Linked DNA regions of Homo sapiens. The protein of the gene in region 2 binds, or shares a complex with, the protein of the main gene of each other region. Each region holds a gene or a part of one and is shown on either strand. Other genes may lie near its edges.

Region 1 (10,416 bases), on a different chromosome or scaffold from region 2:
GCCTGACACTTAGCAAGTGTGGAATGGAACTGTCTACATCCAGACAAGCAGGGTCCCCATTCTCAGTCTGCAGATGAGGAAATGGAAGCTTCTCCTCTGAGAGCTGGGCCATGCCCAGGGGACAGAAATCATTTACAGAGTGCAGAGAGTGGACCAGATGCAACTTGTCCCACGTCACATCGCAAAAGGGACAGAGCTGGGGTTTGGACCCAGGCAGTCAGGCTCTGGAAACTGAGGTCTTAGCCTCTCCACATCACCATCTTCCAGGAGCTCAGGCCGGGTCCCACCCCAGCCGACCCTGCACCACCTCTGCTCCTCACCCTCCCTGAGTCCCAGCTGCACAGCTGAACCTGAGGTGTCCCCTGGGCCAAGGGTGGTAAACAGTCACTGCCACCTGCTCCTGCTCTGTGAGCAAGAGGAAGCAGAGCCCCTTGCCTAATAGAGGAAGTTCCTGGGTGGGGCACAGAGGGCCTGCCCAGGGGTTCCCAGCCCAGTCCGAGGCCCAGGAAGGGGCCACCTCCAGTGCCCCAGCTCAGGGCTAGGTGCCACCTGCAGGACACGTAACCCCCTCCCCACCCACCAGGCTGGCAGGCATCGCCCCTTTAAGCTGTAGGCAGCCGGCTGGCATGCCCAGCGGGTGAGTCAGCACCCAGTGCCCGCTGACTCACCGCCGGAAGCCTCCGCTGCCCCGGCCTTCTCCTCACACGGGCCAACTGAGAACTTTGCTCCCTTTGGGCGCTGGGCCATGGGTTGGCTGACAGAGAGTTTCCTGTGCGTCACAAGAGGGGTGGGGGAAGTCCCCGAGGTGCCACCTCCAGTCTTTCCGACAGCCAGGGGTTGGGGGGGTGGCCACAGCAGGCAGGGCTAGGATACAACAGTGCTCTATGAAACCTCAGTGTCACCATCGGGCAGTCAGGAGTCCTACAGCCACAGTCCAAGCTGTGTGAAGATTAGCCATGAAGTGCTCCCACAGGTGGCACTCTTAGGGCAGAAGGGGCAGAACCCATGTTCTGAACGACAACAGGACACGTGTGGTACCCTCCAAGGACAAATGTGGCTTGCACACATGCCCCCACCCACTGGCCCCAGCGCCAGCCACTTGGCCTCTAACCCCAGCCAGAGATGGCCATGTGGGCAAGGAGGCCAGGGGAAAACCAGCAGAGCTGTGGGCCTGAGGGCCTCACACACTCATAGAAAACTCCCCAGGCCCATGGCATGGAAACAGTGCAGGGCACCTGCTGCCAGGCAGGAAGCTCAAAGGTAAAGCTCCAGTAAGGTCAAGCGCCAGCCACTCCCTGCTTTGTTCAAATTCCTTTGAGAAGGTGGAGAAGGGATCAGTGCTGGGAGGCCCAGTGCCCAGGATGGGGTGGGCACAGAGTGAGGCTCTCCACCTATGGGGGCAGTCCGGCCACTCCTCCATCCAAGCTGAGTTCTGCATCTGTCAAATGAGTGGGATTTTGCAGCGAGAATGCAACAGGCCCAGTGTAAAGCGCTGTGCACAGGAGAGGCATCACCTCTGCCTCAGTCTGTCCTCTAGGTCTGACGTGGCCATGAGGACAGGCCCACTGCACATGCTCTGAGCAAGGCCAGGGGTGGGGGCACCCCACCAGCTCAGCTCAGGCATCCAGCATGGGAGGGGCACATAGGGGAGCACGGGGAAGGCCACTGTGGAAACACAGTCCTAGGGGGAACCCTAGCTCCGCCTGTCACAGCTGTGTGGCCTCAGGCAAGGCACTTAACGCCTCAGTTTCCTTATCAGTAAATGGGGCTATGAGGAATAAATGAGAAAATGCATGGCACATGGAAAAAAAGAAGGAGCTCATAGGGTTTTTGGTGAAGGGCATTGTGGCTCTGCCACCACATCCTTCCCCAGACCCCAAAGAGACTACAGAGTCCCTGGGCCTGAGGGAGGTCCCTGACCCTCCATCCAGCCCCCTCAACCTCATCTAGGACCTGGGTCCACATCTAGAAGTTCATTTTGGCCCTCTCACAGCATTCTCACTGCATCTATGACCCCTCTCCTTTCACAACTCTGCAACTGGAACTTTTATTTTGATGAGGCATTCTCTGCCTGGAGAGCTAAAAAGCCTCCAAAACAAACAGTGCTTCCTACCCTTCCCCGAGCTCTCCAGAGTGGAGAAGTGTCTGATTTCCTGGTTCCCAAGCTCCACGAGGTCTGTGCAGTGCAAGTCCCTCCCCAGACACCTCCCCCGTCGAGTGCCTCCCGAGTTACTCACAGTGGTTGGGCAATGGTCAGGGATCCGGCCTCCCACTTATGTAAGGCATAATTATCCAGCCCACCCGGCTCCAGCCACCATAGCAGCCAGCAGCAGGGGCCAGGAAGAGCCCATGCCCTCCCCAGGCCCACATAGGGCTCCCATTGGCCTGCACCCTCCAGAACAGAAGAGCGGCTGACCCCTGATGAAGTGCCCACTAGGTGCCCGCTGCTAGGTGCTTCCTCCTGCTCACTCTGAGGCTGCACTTCCAGCAGTGGAGGCCTTTCCAGCAAGAAGAATGGAAACAATAGCGAGATGTGTGCAGCCAGTGTACCCTGGTGAGCACCGGCTCTGCGCCAGGTGCTACGCTGAGAGAACGCCTCAGAGCTCTTTACTATTCACCACCCCACACCACACTCCCACGTCCACAGAAGCAGGTGCGATTACTTCCAATTTACAGAAAAGGAAACTGAGGCCCAGAGACACCAGGGAGCTTGCTGGGGTGAAGCAGCTGCAGGTTCAGAAAGCCAGGAGGCAGCCCATTCATTACGGCTATGTCCGGTTTGGAAATCTCTCGCACAACCCAGCCTACTGAAACTCCGACGCACCAAAAACATCCTTTCCTCTTCCTGAAAAAAAAAAAATTCCCCTTTTGCCCTCCGAGTTTCATCCTTCCCCCTCCGCATGACAAATCCTGCTGCTGCCACCTCACAAAAATTTCCAGGAAGGCCAGCTACTTGGAGAAGAGCAAATCCCTTGCACAGCCAGCACCCTGGCCTGGCGGCTGGCCCAGATCCCAGGCAGCCAGGACAAGAATAAGATGGGGTGAGAACCCCCAGTGCAGGGAGAAGCTTGCAACTCAAGACAGAGAGAGGCCGGTAGAGAGGGGGCTGTACCTTAGGGAGGGGTGGGAGGACAAGGAAGGTTCCTGGGAGCCCAGGGCTGCAGGACAGGGTGCAGGCCAGCCAGGGAAGGGGCAACATAGGGCCTATAAGGATAAGAAGAGCTGGGGGAGAGAAGGACGGGGAGTTCCGAGCTGGGGTGTAGCCAGAGCACCCGCATAGGGGGTACAGTGAGGTCCGCAACAACAGGAGCACTCTGGGGCCCAGATGGAGACTCAAGTTAAATCCCAACCTGGATACAGCCCTGGGACCCGAAGCTAGAAATGGGACTGGGTGCTGCCCAAGGACCCAGGTGAAGGCCAGTGTGAATCTCACCTGGGTCCCGCTGAGGGAGAAGACTGGGAGAGTTCATGTCCAGGCTGCAGCCATAAGGCCCAAATGAGGTCAGAATGAGGCTCCTGACTTGGATGGGGTGAGCAGAACAAAGTCCTAGTCTGGGTCCAGCCTGGGTGATCTCGGGCCTGAGTGCAGTCCCAAGGCCTAACGTGGGGGTCCAGGTGAGGGCCCAGGCGGGGGCTGGTCCCGGGACCCCGAACAGGAAGGGGTTCCGGGACCGGACGCCGCTGCCAGGTCGAGAACAGGATGGGGTGGGACCAAAGAAAGGTCGGGGTTTGCAGCCCGGCCCCAGATTAGGCGCGGGGTCAGGCCGAGGTCCCGGCCGGGAGCGCCTACCTTTGGACTGGGGCATGCTGGCGGGCTGGCTCGAGGCGGGCGACTCCATGCTGCAAGTGGGTCCTGGACGGCGGTGGAGACTAATCTAGAGGACTGCGGGCTCCACCGGGGCCGAGCACGCTCATGGCTGCGGGCAGACGGCCCAGGCCAGGCGGAGGAGCAGCGGCGGCGGCGGCGGCGGCGGCGGCGACTGCGGCGAGGACTGCGGCGGCGACTGCAGCAAGGACGAGTCCGCGACGGGCGGCGCCGGAGACAGACTGGGCAGCGCCGGGGAGACCCCGGCCGAACTGCGCTGACTCAGGCCCCGCCCCTGCGTGCCCGATTGGTCCTTTCGTTTCCAAGGCCCGTCCTCTGCCTATCAGACGCCGGCCTGTCCCTGCCTGTCAAGCACACGCCCCACCCTCCTTAGGCCCAGGATCCGGGCCCCTCCCGCTCTCTGTCAAGTCCGCCAGCCGCCCGAAAAACCCAGGTCCGGTCAGGCTCCGCCCCCTGGACTAAAGCCGCGCCCCTCGCGCTGCCCGTCAACATGCAAGCCCCACCCACTCCCGGGACCCACTGAGCCCGCTGCTCCCTGCAGGCGCCCAGGCCCAGCCCGGCACCCCCAGACCCGCAGCCCCGGCGGGTGCGATGCGCGGGCGCGTTCTCCTGGGTGCGTCGTCTGGAAAAAACCCGAGATCCCTAAAGGTGGCACGGCTGGGCCTGCCGAAGTGGGCGGGGGTTAAAAGTGCGCTGCTGGGCTGCCTCCTGGCTCTCTGAACCTGCAGCTGCCTCACCCTAGCAAGCTCCCTAGTGTCTCTGGGCCTCAGTTTCCTTTTCTGTAAATTGGACCCGGGTTCGGATCCGAGTCGGCAGCTTTGTAGCGGAACTAGCCTTGGTCAGGTGGTGACACCTGAGCCTCAGTCTACGCATCTGTGAGCGGGCGGCGGTGACAGCTATCTCCCGGCGCTGCTCGCTAACACGCACTGAGGGCCTGGCGCCAGCAAACGTCGCCCGCGCCCGCGCTCCAGGCGCCCGGCCAGGGCGCGGGGTCGGTGGTGAGCTCAGCGATGCCCGGTGACGAGGCAGCACGAGGAGTTTTCGTGGCTGGTTACTGCTGCCCCTGTTCTACACAGGGGGAAACCGTGTCTCAGAGGGAGTGAGGCGGCATGCGGTGCATTTTATCCCGCGAGCCCCGAGGCCCCATCCTGGCTCTCTCCTGGACCTTCGTTCTCTCCTCTCCTCCTAGGATCTCAGTCTGCCCATCTGCATAATGGCTGGATGGGCCAGTCCTCCCTCTGCTCCCACACGGAACCTCGGGGGATTTCAGGAACCGCTGACCAATCTGGCGCTGGGAACAGATGACTCTGGATGTAAAGCCAGGGCTAGTGAAGGCAGAATGTACCAGGCAAAGGTCAAGGGGTCAGCCCCTGGCCTCCAGGCAGACATGTGTACCCTGTCAGGGACCTCACGTGAGGGAAGCAGATTCCACCACCTGCTAGAAAGGCTTGAGGCCGGGCCTGACCTCTGCTTGCCCAGGTGTAAAGTGGGGGTGATGCAGGGCCCCATGCACAGAGTGGGGAGCCACAGGAGATAAGAGGGAAGCCTTGCAGCCATCACCATTCTCTTCCTGCGTCTCCTGTTCACCCTTCCCAGGCAGTGGGATGGAAAATCATGAGTCTGGGGCTCAGATAGGTATGGGTTCCAATACCAATTCCTCCACTTACTAGCTGGATGACCTTAAAGAAGTCACTGAGCAGCTCTGTGCCTCAGTTTACCTATCCCATGGGGACAATAAGGTCTCTGAAAGCGTTTCATGAGTTCAGGAGTGGAAACACCTGGCCTAGGGCTTGGCACTCACTAGGTGCCCAGGAAATGTGAGTTTGAAAACACTGTGGGCTGCCTCCATCCTTGCCATATCATCCCTGGTGACCTGTGCTTATCCGTCTGTAAAATGGGCATCCAGGAGCAGCTTCCTTTCTACCAGAACTGCAAGGCTAGTCCAGCGAGTTTTCTGGGTTCAGGCACTGGCCAACAGCCTTGACTTCTGCACAAGGCCACACTCCGCCTTGTGCACTCTGCTTCTTGGGATGTTCAAGAGTCTCAGTATTGCCCCTCAAATGTGCCAGGGATGGTCCTGCCGCAGCAGCTTCACCCTTGCTGCTCCTGCCCAGAACATTCTTCCACTCAAGCCTCCTGGGGCTGGTTCCCTCTCATCCCTCAGACCGCTTCCTAAATGAACACCCCTAAGAGGCCTTCTCATCATGGTCCCCAGACTGAGGCACAACACTTATGCTGCTGATGTCTTTGTTACTGACTCAGTTTTTAACACAGCTCTCCCTCCAGACCATCCGAGCCTCATTCCCTGCTGTGTTCCCAATGCATAGCCCAGAACCAGGCACATAGTAGGTGCCTGATAAATATTTGAGGAATGAAAAAAGGAAGGAGGAAAGCATCCACAGACCAGGGTGAAGCGACTCCAGTCCCGTGCCAACCTCCTTGGCGGCCAGATGACTCAGACAGGCCCTCGCATACAAGGAGTTTGGGGATTAGTCAGGAGCCCGATAAACAGCTCAGGAATCACAAAACTCCATGTGAGTGCTATAAATAGATGCATGAGCAAAAGTCCCAGGAGGGTGCCTGGGTGATGCAGCCATCTCCATCTGGGTGGGGACAAGGAAGGCCTCTCAGAGGAGGTGATTTTGAGACTGGACTTTTAAGGACCAGTAGGAGCTTACCAGGCAGAGAAGCAAGAAGAGCATCCCTGGAAAGGAACAGCAGAGGCAATGGGTTGGAGATGTAAAAAGGGCCACACATGAGGACCAGGTGAGGGCCAGACTGGGATGCACAGCTGCACCACTGGAGCTCAAGAAGTACCATCAAGAACCATCAGAGACAAAGGTCTCTTGCTGGCTTGCTATAGTGACATCTCTTGATTTCTTTCTGTCTGTAAGTGGCACAGTCAGATTGGGGAACTCCATGACCATGCAGAAAGCAGAATAAATGTTTGACATGGGTCACAAGAGGCTGCCTCTTACCTTGATTCCTAGGAGAAAAGTCCCAAACCTGCTCTCTGTGGATGCAGGAAACTGAGTCTCTGGATGGGAAGGATTGTGGCCAAAGTCAGGATGCAAGCATGATCTGAGGTGGGCAGGACCTGGGGTGACAGAAGGCTGTAAAGAGAGGCTGACTCAATAGCATTAACTATAAGTTTTGTGCTTCCAAATCACTTTTTGGTTTTTAAGAATTTCTTGATACTATTGTAGCCTGCCTTCGATTTTGATCCTTTATTCTTTCTATTTGTCAGGTGCACAAGATTACCTTCCTTTTTTAGCCTTCTGTCTTGTCACCAACCATTCCTACTTGGTGGCCATGTACTTGGAAAAAGGCCGCATGATCTTTCTGGCTCCAATCAATGTCTAAGGCACCCTGCTTCCTTTGCTTGCATCCCACAGACTATTTCCCTCATCCTATTTACTACAGCAAATCTCTCCTTAGTCGATGAGATTGTGTTTATCTCCCTTTAAAACCCTACCTATCCTGAATGGTCTGTCATTGTCTGCCTTTAAAATCCTTCCTCTTTCTTCTTCCTCTATTCTTTAAATAATGATGGGGCTAAGTTATACCCAAAGCATCACTTTACAAAATATTTCCTCGGTACTTTGCAGAAAACACCAAACAAAAATGCCATTTTAAAAGAGGTGTATTTTTTCTTTTAAAATGTAAGCTCCTCAAGGGCAGGGAAATGTTTTCTGTATGTTCTATTGTGCCTAGTACACTGTAAATGCTCAATAAATACTGATGATGGGGGAAAAAAAAGAGAGAGGCTGACCCAAACCCAGGATGTGGGCAGCTCCTTCATTCATTCAACAGATATTCATTGAGCACTTACTGTGTGACTGGCACTGAGAACACAACATTGAACAAGATGGACACAACTCCCTGGGGAGGTATGACCTGGTGTGTGAGCCAGACAAGCAAAATGCCTAAGTCAAATTATGTCAGGCCAGGCATGGTGGCTCACACTTATAGTCCCAGCAGTTTGGGAGGCCGAGGCAGGTGGATCGTTTGAGCCCAGCAGTTTGAGACCAGCCTGGGCAACATGGCAAAACCTCGTCTCTACAAAAAAAAAAAAAAAAAAAAGTTGGCTGGGTATGGTGGCATGCTGCTCAGGAGGCTGAGGTGGGAGGATCACTTGAACCCAGGAGGTCAAGGCTGCAGTGAGCCAAGGTTATACCACTGCACTCCAGCCTGGCGGGCAACAAGACCCTGTCTCAAAAAACAAAAAATTATTACAAATGCTATGGGGGAAAGTAGGGGAGGGGACAGGGTGTGTGTCTGGACATGGGGGCTATAATTTTAAGGAGGGAGGTCAGGAAAAGCCTCCCTGGAAGGTGCCACATAAACAGAGACCAAAGGACTTAACGGAAGGACCCACAAAGAGATCCGGGGGAAAAGCATTCCAGGCAGAGGGAACAGTTGTGCAAGGGCCCTGAGGTGGATGGCTTGTAGGCGAGTAACAAGGAGACCGATGTGGCTGGGTGGTGGGAGCTGAGGAGTCCCTGTTCTCACCTATATACACCCCCTTGGACGTACTCACTCCCACGTGCCCCTTCACACCTGTGCAAGTCCACACACCCCAAATACACATGCACACACACATGACACAAGGGGGTGCACAAGTGTGTACGTTCATGTGGAGGGACCACATGGTCACGTCCACAGACACAACCCACAGGCACAGCGGTGCACATGGTCTATGCATAGCCTTGCCACCAGCTGGGGCCTCCACTGCTTGCTGCCCCACAGCGCCCTCTGGTGACCAGGGCCCGGCAGTGCTCTAGAGTGCCCAGGAGCACAGGATCCACTGCCCTCACTGCTTTGACGGCCATCCAGCCTCCTCTTCTCTGTGCTGCCTGCCCCCAGGCCTTCCACACTGCAGCCAGAGCCTTCCCAAACACGGCTGGCCAAGTTCTAAGTCCTGCCCTGGCTCCCTAGGCGGGCAACTTCCAACACTCCAACCCCTGGTGACTTCTCCAGACATCCCCCAGTCCAGCCACTCTGAATTCAAGCTTTCCTCTTTGAACCTTTCTTTGCAAAGGCTGTTCCCTTAGCCAGGAATGCCCTTCCCTACCTTCCGACCTGACACATTCCCTCCGCTCCTTCGAGGCCCAATTCTGAAGGTGGGACAGGAGGCCCTGCCTGACACTGCTCTGCCCAGTGCCCCTGCCCCAGCCCCTCTCACCATGGCTCACCCGCCCTGTCAGTGGCTGCGCCCCTGTCTGCCTCTCCCATACGACTCCTGCTGCTTGAAAGCAGGGCCTGTGACTGGTTCTCCCCAGAACAGCATCAGGCCATGCTGGTGATGGTGGAAAAGTGAAAACTTGAGAAGCTTGGAGGCAGCAATATGTGGTTCCTGAGCATCTTTTACTCAGGGGCCGGTTCTGAAGTCGAAATATAGAGAAGGAAACCTCAACGGAGGCTCACCTGCTTTCTTTAAATCATCATCACTCTCAAATATCAAAAGATGAATTCACACAAGTGACTGGCTCCACTAGCAAAACAGCAAGTCCTATTTTTACAGCTCCTACTATGTGCTAGTCCCTCCAAGCACAGCATCTTATGGACTCACTGTGATGCAAGCTGCACGGGGGCAATGCCTTTGCTTTGGTCACTGCAGTGTCTCCGGCACACAGTAGGTGCTCAGTGAATACTTGCGGAGTGGAGGAAAGTTTTCAATGTCCCAACGAGGTGTCTAGTATTATCATCATCTCCACTAAAGAGATGAGAAAATCGAGGCTCAGAGAGGTGCCCAGAAGCATCCAATACCGCTGGTAATGGCAGAGCTATTGTTTGAAATCTGTTCTGTCAGATGGAGATAGTTTTCCCTGCCTTTTCCTGCCCACACTTCCACTAAAGTGTTTTGCAACACCCTGCTTCCGAGCAAAACAAACTCCCCTTGAGCTCCCTTCACTGCTTTCTGGAAAGCCACCAGCTCTGCTTCTAACAGAGCAGTTGAGTCTGGCCTGCCCGGTTCCCTGCAGGGTTGCACGAACAACCCTGTGGCTGTCCCCAACACCAGTCCAGGGGTCCAAGGAGCCTCAGCATGGTGTCTCCCTGCCCAGGGTTCTCAAACTTAGCACTTCCTGCCCAGCAGGCAGGAGGCAGTCAAGGGGACAACACTTACTGGCACCTGTTGCATGCCAGGCCTCGTGACTTGACACACATCCCAGGGAAGTGGGTGTGGTTAGACTTTCATCTTACAGATGAAGAAACAGAAGCCCAAGGCTTCAAGCGCTTGCCCAGGTTCCACCACCAGGAAGGATGACACCAGATTTTTAACCCAGACCATCACTGTAACAGCCTACTGTGTGTCAGCCTTTTTAGTTCAATCCTGTGCTTCATTATCTAGATGCCAAGACCACAGGGCTGTTCTTATTGCCCCATGATGGGTGAGAAGTACTGCAGACACAGAGATGAAGCAACTTGCCCGTGAGATCACACAACCAGGGAGAAGAGAGGCAAAAGCGTCCCAATGGGGCTGACTCCACAACACGGGTGCATCCAGCATATCTGCCTTCAAAGTGCTGTTTTCTAATCTAGGCCAGGAAGTAGCCAAGTAACCGTGAACCAATGAGTTGTCTCAGCCA
Region 2 (9,830 bases):
ATGAGAGCAGAGGTATCCGGTGTATCCCAACCACCCTCCTGCGGATCCCCACGCCTCCCCTGCGCATCCCATGCGGGCAGCAGCACACAGGAGACCACAGGCTAAGCCTGAACCACAGGCAGACTCACCAGGCACGCCCCATGGCCTGTGCTCATGCCCTCAGGTGGTGACGAAAGGTAGGGGAAGCTCAGGCCGGGGAAGGTGTGGGGGGTGAGTGCTTCCTGCAGAAGCCCCTCCGGACTGCAGCACAGGTGGTCCCACCTGGTTGTAGGGCAGGTCACTCACTTCGGTGGCAGGGGACACAGCCAGTGGGGGGTTGCACGCCTTTAACCCTTAGTGAGATGGAGAAGTAATTCATGGCCTATCAATCTTTTGACAATTAAATTAGATGAGTACTTGGAAAGATGCCTTTATTTTCCCTTCCTCCCCCCCGCCTCCCTTTTATGGCAGCATTAAAACACTTTTCATTTTAAAGCCTGGCCAGCAGGCAGTAGATTCCAAGGCTCTGGTTAACTAGGAATGCTTTGCTACATTGAAAGGAAAGTTCAAAACCAAGCCCAAACTCCCTGCCCTCTTCTTTGTCTCTGAGGATGGACGAGAGCGACGGGGCTGGCTGGGACGCATCCATAGGTGGCTGCGCACCTAGACGGTCCTGCTGAAGGAAGGCAAGGCACACAGATCTCCAGCAGCCGCTGCCCCAATTCCATCCACAGGGTTATTTCTAGGCTCCCACATTCCAAGGACATCCAAAACGCAGAGGGTGCACATCGTTCTGCAGTGTCTGGGGTCACCTCACAGCCACCCTCTTTGTGACCACTTGAAGCCCATTCACCAGGACTGTCTTTCTAAACTCCCTCCCAGGGCCTGCCTGGCTGTCCTCTGGGCACAGCTGGGCCACCATCATTAGAGTAAACCTCAACTCCAATGCAAATACTAAAATCCTTGGGAAGACCTGGCTACAGAAAAAGAGCCCTAGAAACAAAAATGATGAAATAGAAAGCACTTCTGTGGACAGCAACTTCTGGATCAAGTTCTGGCCTCTAAGGTTATAGTCCCACCCTCTACTAAGGCAGGGTCTATCTAGTTCAACCCTTGCATGCACTAACACCTCCCCTCCCACATCAAGAAACAACGCCAAAGGTCTCAAAACTTTGTGCTCACGACTAATACTGAGGCCTCAGGAAGGTAACAAATACGGGAGAAAATGAGCAAAGGGGCGACTCTGAATAGTATTACCCTGAGACACAGAAGGGGAAAAAAGTTAAGATTCGTACCTTTCCAAAAAAACCTTGGTAAGGATTCTTCCCCCCAGATAGCTCTCACGGGGGTAGAGGGAATACTGGCAAAGGTTGAAAGTGGCAGTTTGCATGTTTTTAACCCTCTCCATTTTCTAAGAAGAAAACACAGTCAATACATTTGATTGTCTTGAAAATGAAGCCAACCGATGAGAGCATTTAAAGTGCACATGTCACCTAACGACAACGACTGAGATGACTGGAATTGAGAGAAGACGCAGTCTCCTTCCAGGAAGCTCACTCGATTCTGGAAATCTGGGGGCTCTGGATAGGAACTCCATCTTTCCCCCAAAACTTAAGCACAGTTTCAGGCACGTGATTTCTTTAGCTTGATGGAGAACATGGTGTCCCGGCGTGGAAACAGTATGGGGAATTCAGTCCGAGTCACCCCAAAAAAACAACCCCTTCTCATGTGATAGAAACCAAGACAGGCCATTAGATCCAGCAACTAGAGCACTGTCAAGGCCATGAGCAAAAGCACAGGCAGCCACCATCCCAGGTAAATCCCCAGGACAGGAACAAATCCCCCTGAGGACAACTTCCAAGGGGGGAAGAGAGATGACAAAGGTATGTAAGCACAGTTCTTGGTAAGCGGTTCTGTTGCTGCACTGCAGACTGTATTCCTGGATGAAGTTGGGTGGTTTGAGGGAATTCCGGGCACTACTTTGATTTTAAACTTGTCCAACCAGAACCTGACCAAATCGTTTTGAGTGGGGTCTGGGCAGATGTGAAATCTCTATTTTTAAAAAAGACCACCAAAACAACCAAAGCAGATGAAACATCACAGCTGGGCGGGGAGTAAGAGACCCTCTAACATTGATGTCAAGCTCTGTGGCGACGTGCTCTAACTTCAGCATCCACGGTGTTTTTGTGAAGAGCACGTACGCAAGTAAATCCCATCAGCACCAACCTCGTATTGTTCCAAACCCGGAGAACAGGGGCACCCGGCCTACATTTACAAGGAGAAGAATGCAGGTTCAGTACTGCCCTCCTGCAAATCCCAGGAGGGGAACTCGGAGCCAGTGCCCAGAACAGACAGCCAAGCCCCGGGTAGATCTCAGGAAAGTCACGACAGATTCAGCTGTAACTTGGAGTTGTACAAATAGGTGAAAGAAAGAAACTTAACTTTTTGTTTAGGGTCTTTGCAAGGGGACATATTTTCAATAGAAAAATCAGCAGGTTTTGGCCTTTGGTCTGTTTCTGAAGGGTGAGTATTCTCCATGACAGAAAAAGGCAAAGGTAGGTCAGAGGTGGCGAGTTTCTTCATTCTCAAACAAGGGAGAAGACATCCTTTGATTAAAGAATGAGGCGGGGTGGGGGAGGGAAGGACATGGACCCCCTCCCTTTAAAATTTCATCTGGGCCTTCAAGGCACTTCAAAAGACACAGAGTGAACAGTGCTGGCTGCCACTTCACTCGGTATTGACTGGATAGTTTAGACTGTTGGGCTAGACCTGGCTCACCCTTAAAAAAAAACAAACACAAACACACAAATACAATAAATAAAACAAATGTAGGCTACAAATTTTAAACCAGACCTCTTTCAAATAAACTGAAAGATAAATATCTCCATCTGCAAGGCCAGCTTGCAATTCATCAATAAGCACCAAGTTACAGATTTTTCTTTTTTTAAGTGTGCTCAAAAGCCCCATGCTTCCGAGGGGCAAAAAAGCAAGAATTGAAGGCCACGTTGGAAGCACAAAATTTTCCAGGGCCTCCCTTCTGGTGTACGGGGCCTCAGAGGGCAACATTACCATGAACTGTCCTGCACACACCAGCTGGGGAAAGCCTCAAGTGAACAAAGATGAAAACACGGTGGGAAAAGCAAAAGCAAAGCCGAGCAGCAGGCAGCCATCTGTATCTGCTTCCAGGGGCAGAGTACAATTCAACAACAGACCTTTACATGTATTTTTGAAGAAATCCAATTTTGCCAAGGCCTCCTAACATAAGAAGGGCGCTTTCACAACCACGCCTTCCGGGCCAGCTCCTCTCCAGATCTGCACTGGCAGGAACTGCTACACATGGCTTCACCCTTCGCCTGAACCCACTTCTCAGCCAGCTGTCCTAGCTTCAGAGCACAGCTTCTGCCTGGCCTGGGTGCGAGGCTGACCCCTGGCAGTGGTGTGCCCTCACCCAGCAAGGGCCAGACAGCTGCTGTCTGGGAGAGGCACGACGGGGGCTCAGGAACACAGCCAGGAGGCCGTGGCCCCTTCTGAGTGGTCAGTGACAATCAAAAGGTGTCACGCTGCAGGGATAATGGTGAGTAGGCCTCTTCACTTTATCCATGGCCAAAACATGTGGGTAAACATGCTGGAAAACCAGGATATTTCTTCTGGATCTGATGACAGAATGAGATACTATGGGTTGTTTTGTTGCTTTAGTGCCTGAAACACCGAGATCGAGGTGGTGCACATCACGTCTTTTATACACATCAAGCCTTCTCTCACTGGTTTCACAAATGTTTGTCATCCCTAAAATGAAATGAGAAATACATGCAAAACACGGGTGGTATGTGCCCGGGATGGGTTTAGAGGGAAACCAGTCTCTGAGGAGTACTGGGTGAACTGCTGATATGCGGGGGCTCCGGGTCCGTCCAGGCACTGCCCTTGTGCTAAGTTGACCAGACGCCTGGTGCAGACTGGGCCTTCTTCTGGCATTCCCCGTGTGTATATGCAGACAGGTCCCCATGTACGTACACAGATCAAGTCCAAAACATCTGCTGTTTGGTTTTGTGTTCCCCCAAATAAAAGGCATTCGGAGGTTCAGACCTTACTTGGATACACTCTTTCAGCCTTTAGGAATTCCTGACGTGTCCAAAACCATCACCTGTACTTACGAGGCCATTACTTTCAGTGTAATCCTGAGTAGGGCCAGCCCAACCTGAGAGTCCTGGGCAGTCACAAATCATGGCCGAAGCAGAGTCTGGGCCTCCTTCCCCACCCGACACTCAATATCATCTGTTGCTTATTGTCCAGGACCTGGGGCCGCCCAGGAGGACTGGACGCTGAGGAGCAGTGGGCGTCCAGTGTAAGAGACTTGTGCACGCGGGGACAGCAGGAGAGGTGGGCTGGCCAGGATCAGGAGGCAGCTGCCTCAGCAGAGAGGAAGAGGGTCAGCAGAAGATCTCTTCACCCTCTGCTGATACTTCTGACGCGGGACCATCTGGAAATGTGAAAACCAAGAATGAAAAAAATTCAGAAAAACTGCTCCTTTCATTGAACTTCCTCCCCATCCCAAAGTCTTCTGTAATGCAAACAGGCGACTGGGGCTTATGGGCAATTAACTCTTCTGCGCACCGGGGTTTCTGAACAAATTTGGTTAATAAGGTTCTTAAGTGATATCCTTCACTGCCTAATGCTCCCTTTAACTTTTAAATAATCACTAGAATTTATGAAGAGGCCAGGAAAATGTACTTTTTCTTTAACCTCCCACACAGAAAGGAGAGATCAATCCTAAAGAGAAGGATTCAGGGGAAAAAGTGGTACATGAACAGGGAGGCATTTAGTGGAATTCAGCCGCAGGCTCTGTGGCCGCTGGCACATTAGTTAGCCTCTGTGAGCCTCAGTTTCCTCACTTCTCTTGGGGTTAGCAGTGCCAACTTCATACAGTCATTTGAGGGTTAAATCACCAAATGCTAGCTGTTACCAATGACTACTCTAGGCCCAGAAAGGCAAGGAGGACTTGAATTACTTCATTGAGGGGTGAGCTCCAGTTCCTCGATCGGATAATGCCTTGAAAATGAAACCCATGCTCTCTGCTTCTGCACACGTGCCACACAGAGTGGGTTCTTAATGTTCGCTGCATGAGTGCTCTTAGCAAGCGGAGCTGGTGAAAAGGATGGCAGTTTGGCTTTTGAGCATCTGAACTGTCCCCTTTTCAACCCCGCCCCATGCCACTAAAATCTACCCTCTCTCAGAATGCACAGACACTATGGCCACAGGGAGAGCAGGTGTGCGTGACTCACCACCGGGCTGAGAGCGGCTGGTTTTGTTCTTCTTTTTTTTCTCCTTCTTTTCCTTTGGCTTTGTTAACCCAAACAGGCGGGTAGAGGCAGAGGTGGACGCAGGGGCCTGGCTCTGCCCTTCTGGTCCTTTGTTTGTCTGGCTGGTTGAACTCAGTATGTGAAAAGGCCCCTTATCTTTGTGTGTCCGAGAGATGCTGTTCCTTTTTGGGGACACTGAAAGTTCTGAGTCCAATGACCCTGATTTGGCTATGGAAGGTGCAGATGGCGAGGGGGGCTCCTCAGGACTGGGGAAGAACGATGGGATCCTCATCAGCTTGGTATGTGGATGGGAAACCTGTACATATTCAAGAGAAGGGTTTTCACTTGGAGGCTGTCAGCGTCCGTGATGCCAACTCAATAAATCCTGGCTGAATTCAACTGGGTGTGCTGGCTGGGTACTTACCCACCTCTGCGAACTCTACAGAGCTCACGTCTGTGGACTGCATAGAGCTTGAAGGTTTCATTAGCTGCCCTCCCCCAAGTAGTATCTATAAACATGTTAAAAATATCGCCTTTAATGCTGTTAATACTTTTACTACATACACAAACGCCGGCGTTGTAAAAAACCAATAGTACCTTTGATGGGGCGACTTAGAAAAGAATTCCCATTCCCTGAAGAAACAAGGAGAGCTGCTTAAGATTGCTCTACACAGGGATGCAGATAATTATTTTAAGGCAAAGAGATTATAGAAGCCTGTTCCGGTTAGAGGATAAGTGGAAAAGCCGAGCTTACACCAAGAATCCTAGTCACAGGTTAAACCAGAGATAAAGAGGATCATCTACTCTGGGTTCTCTTAGCTGCCTGGGAACCCTCCTTTGTCAAAGCACCGATTTTATTGGGATGGGGGTGGAATCCCTCCTTATGTCATAAAAAGCAACACATGGCATTTGCTGCTCCCCACCCCCAATATATTTGGCAACATCTGCAGAAAGCTACAACTGCCCCCTACCCTGGAAGCTGTCAGTATAATTTTCTTTCGTGGTCCAAGATCAATCAATCAAACAAACGGCAACATGGTATGCATTTCAAAACACAGGCAGATCTGTGTACACCCAGGCTCTCCATCTGCCACAAGCATCCATGTTTCGAAATAACCAAGGAATATCACTGAAATAAGCTCAGGAGTGAGTGTGCTGAATAACCAAAAGCCTTCCAATATAAGCAGCAGCTATAGAGAAAGAGAGGTTTTTCATCAGCAGTAGAGAGGCAAATCAGGAACTATGCAGAGTGCAGCTGTCTCAACATCCCCAAGCAAGAATATCATCCATCCACGAGAGGAGTGGCGGCCTCCCCTAGTTGCTGGGATGGGCGTTTCCCTCTGTAACTGCCTCCCACCGATCCTGCCACATGGGTTCTTCCAGCAACTCTGGCCTGAGAGCCATTTCCTGCTGTCTCAGGACCACAGGCACCACATGTTCTGGAGGCTCTTTTATTCTTGGTGTGCTTCCCCATTAAGCTACAAGTTCCTTCAGGTTGGGGCCATGCCTGATTTCTGATGTGGCACAGAGCAGTGGCGTTGCTCCTAAAATCCTGGATGGCTGACTGCCATTTTCTCAGACACACTGAGACTCCTCTAGCTGAGGGAAGTGCCAACTCCAAATATCCATTACTGCCCTGGCCAAAATGCCCCAGCACTTCCATTCTCTTTTTCAGCCTCTTAGAGATGCAAAAAGCAGAAGAAGACTTTCTGCCTCTGCCTCTCTTTCGGGGTAAAACAAAGATTCTTTTTGTTTTTCTGTGTGTGTTTTTTTGAGACGGAGTTGCTCAGGCTGGAGTGCAGTGGCGAGATCTCGGCTCGCTGCAATCCCCACCTCCCCGGTTCAAGCGATTCTCATGCCTCAGACTCCCAAGCAGCTGGGATTATAGGCGCCTGCCACCACACCCAGCTAATTTCTGTATTTTTAGTAGAGACGCCGTTTCGCCATGTTGACCAGGCTGGTCTCAAACTCCTGGCCTCAAGAGATCCACCTGCCTCGGCCTCCCAAGGTGCTGGGATTTATAGGTGTGAGCCATTGTGTCCAGCTACAAAGATTCTTAAAAACTGTTTTTTTTTTTTGTTTGTTTGTTTGTTTTTTTTTTTTTTTTTTTAGGAGAGACAGAGTCTCCCTCTGTTGCCCAGGCTGGTCAAGCTACCCTCTCACCTCAGCCTCCTAAAGTGCTGGGATCACAGGCATGAGCATCTGGCCAAAAACAGGCTCTATATTTCTGCTCACTTTCTTACCTTGCTTAATACACAGGGGGTCTTAATTAATATCATCATTAGGTTGCTCTCGGCAGGGAGTCCCATTACCTGACACAGGTCCCGTTCTGTCTGCCGCTGGCTGAGCCGCTCTGCCTCCCGGCGCAGCTGCTCCTGTTCCCTCTCAAGCTGTTTCTGGGCAGCACGCAGTCGCTCCAGGTCATACTGGTATGTGCCCTTCTTCTGCTGGAGCTCCTCCCGCTCCTTTTCCAGGTCCTGCTGCCCCTGCTGCACCTCCTCCTCGCGCTGGGCCAGGAGGGCCTCCCGCTCCCGCAGCTCCCTCTCACGAGCTTCCCACTCACGCTCGCGCCTGCGCTTCTCCTCGAGGTACTGGGCCTGCTGCTTCTGCAGGTTGGCCAGGTCCTGGCGCTGCTTCTCCAGGCTGCGCTGCTTCTCCTGCTCAATGAGGGAGCTCGGGCGGGACAAGCTGCGAGTGAGCGCCCTCTCGCTCAGCACCAGTTTCTGGTCCTCAATGTAGCTGTCCTGCTGCAGCACCACACCCTGGGAGGCACACAGAGGGGAGCCCTGCAACTCTGGCCAGGACGACAGCGAGCTTCTGGATCCCTCCCGACCCCACAGCAGGGGGCACCAGGCACTATGACGGACTAGAACTCTCCCCTCATTTTTCAAGCCCGTCTCATAAAAATGCTCCAGGATAATTGCAGCTGTTTATCATACAAGAACCTCAAAGGTGCAGGAACTCACGGGTTTTTGTCAATCTGGTTGCATGCTGTTTGCAGTCAGTGGTATTACCTGGGGTGGGGGGGGGGGTGGTTGTGTGTGTGTGTGTCTGTGTGGGTGGGTGGGTTGTGTGTGTGTGTGTTGGAAGTGGGAGAAAGTAGGAACGAGACAGGTTAGATCTTCAAGAAAGGAAGTGAGCAGAATTTGAGGATGTTCCTGGGAAGTCCGAAACAGAAGCTGTATTAGGAAGGCCACTCTATTCAAATACCACAGAGATACGGAATATAGAAACTTATAATCATACTTAAGGCTTTCTAAAGTGAAGTAATCTCCCAGATGCATGTTAGCATGCTATGTGATTTGTAGCATGGTTATCAAGCCATGCCTACGGCACACCAGCTCTTCACTAATTCTAGTCCTGGAAGGTCGATGCATTCTGTAACTTTCTCACCACGAGAGCCAGTCTTCCCTAGACTGAGGGCCCCATTTATCCATTAAACATCCTGCAAACCTCAAAGATCCAAGTCAACAACAGCCCCAAGCTGCTGTTCTCTAGACAAATAAACGCAGGGATGGAAGATGAAGGCACGCACCTGCAGAGCGCTGAGGAGCTCGTAGAGATGAACAACGCTCTGGACAACCTGCTGCCAAAGGAACAAAATGGAAACATTCGTTTCAGGGCTTTATGAATCTCAGAATCCATCACACTAATGTTTACCTGATAAGATGGCTCCTTTAAGATACAACTAAATGCTTATATCTTTATGAAATATTTTCAAATTGAAAGCACCAAAGAAACTAAGTGAGCACCAGCAGCCAAGAAAAACAAACGAAGACCACAGTGACCTATGTATAGGAGGAACATCAGCACAAGTTAAAATGTAATAGAAAGCTTCCATTACTTAAAATGACTAGAATAAAAACAGCATACATATCAACGCAACAGAACAGAAATTCCAGAAACTTCTCATAACAATTTAGCATGTAAATAGCATTTCAAATTAATGGAAAGAATATTCAATTAATTGTTCTGAGAAAATTGGCTAAATTTCTGAAAAAAATTGAGTTGAGATCTTAGCTCACACACAAAAAAAGGTTCAAATATCTGAAAATGTTAAAGGCAAAAAATAAACCATATTTATGTCCAGCCAGGGCAAGACAGCGAGATCCTATTTCAAAAAGAAAAAAAAAGAGCTGGAAGGAACTAGAACTGTTTTCTAATCTTGAAACAGGGAAGGCTTTGCAAACACAGAAGTAATGGAAGAAACCAGAAGATTTTTTTCAAAAATTTCTATGTAAAAATGTAAAATTAAAATTAAAAGGCAAAGAACTAATAGAAATTCAAATGGAAAAATCTTTCATTTAAAAAAGGCTCTCATAGAACATTATGACAAAAAAAATACCCTAGTAGAAAAATAGGCCAGGAACACAAACCAGCAATTTACATTAGAAATATAAATGGCCAATAGCATAACATATTAAAAATTACTCAACCTTATTTGAAATCAAATAAATGCAAAATAAAATAAATGACCCAAACTTATCAAACGAACAAAAACTTAATAAGAATGATAATACTCAATGTTGGTAAAAGATGAAAATGAGCATTTGT

Evidence for each region.
Region 1: AKAP13 (region 2) and MAP2K3 share a complex: the UniProt entries of both Homo sapiens proteins name them as parts of the signaling complex.

Annotation. Positions count from the first base shown.
Region 1 is NC_000017.11:21,278,344-21,288,759, reverse strand, and holds the start of MAP2K3 (dual specificity mitogen-activated protein kinase kinase 3), read right to left. Parts: upstream 4,050-10,416; 5' UTR 3,840-4,049; coding exon 3,791-3,839; coding exon of another isoform or gene 3,434-3,790; intron 725-3,433; exon of another isoform or gene 669-724; intron 1-668. UniProt on the Homo sapiens protein: Dual specificity kinase. Is activated by cytokines and environmental stress in vivo. Catalyzes the concomitant phosphorylation of a threonine and a tyrosine residue in the MAP kinase p38.
Region 2 is NC_000015.10:85,739,254-85,749,083, reverse strand, and holds part of AKAP13 (A-kinase anchor protein 13), read right to left. Parts: intron 8,863-9,830; coding exon 8,812-8,862; intron 8,039-8,811; coding exon 7,589-8,038; intron 5,593-7,588; coding exon 5,259-5,592; intron 4,457-5,258; coding exon 4,407-4,456; 3' UTR 1-4,406. UniProt on the Homo sapiens protein: Scaffold protein that plays an important role in assembling signaling complexes downstream of several types of G protein-coupled receptors.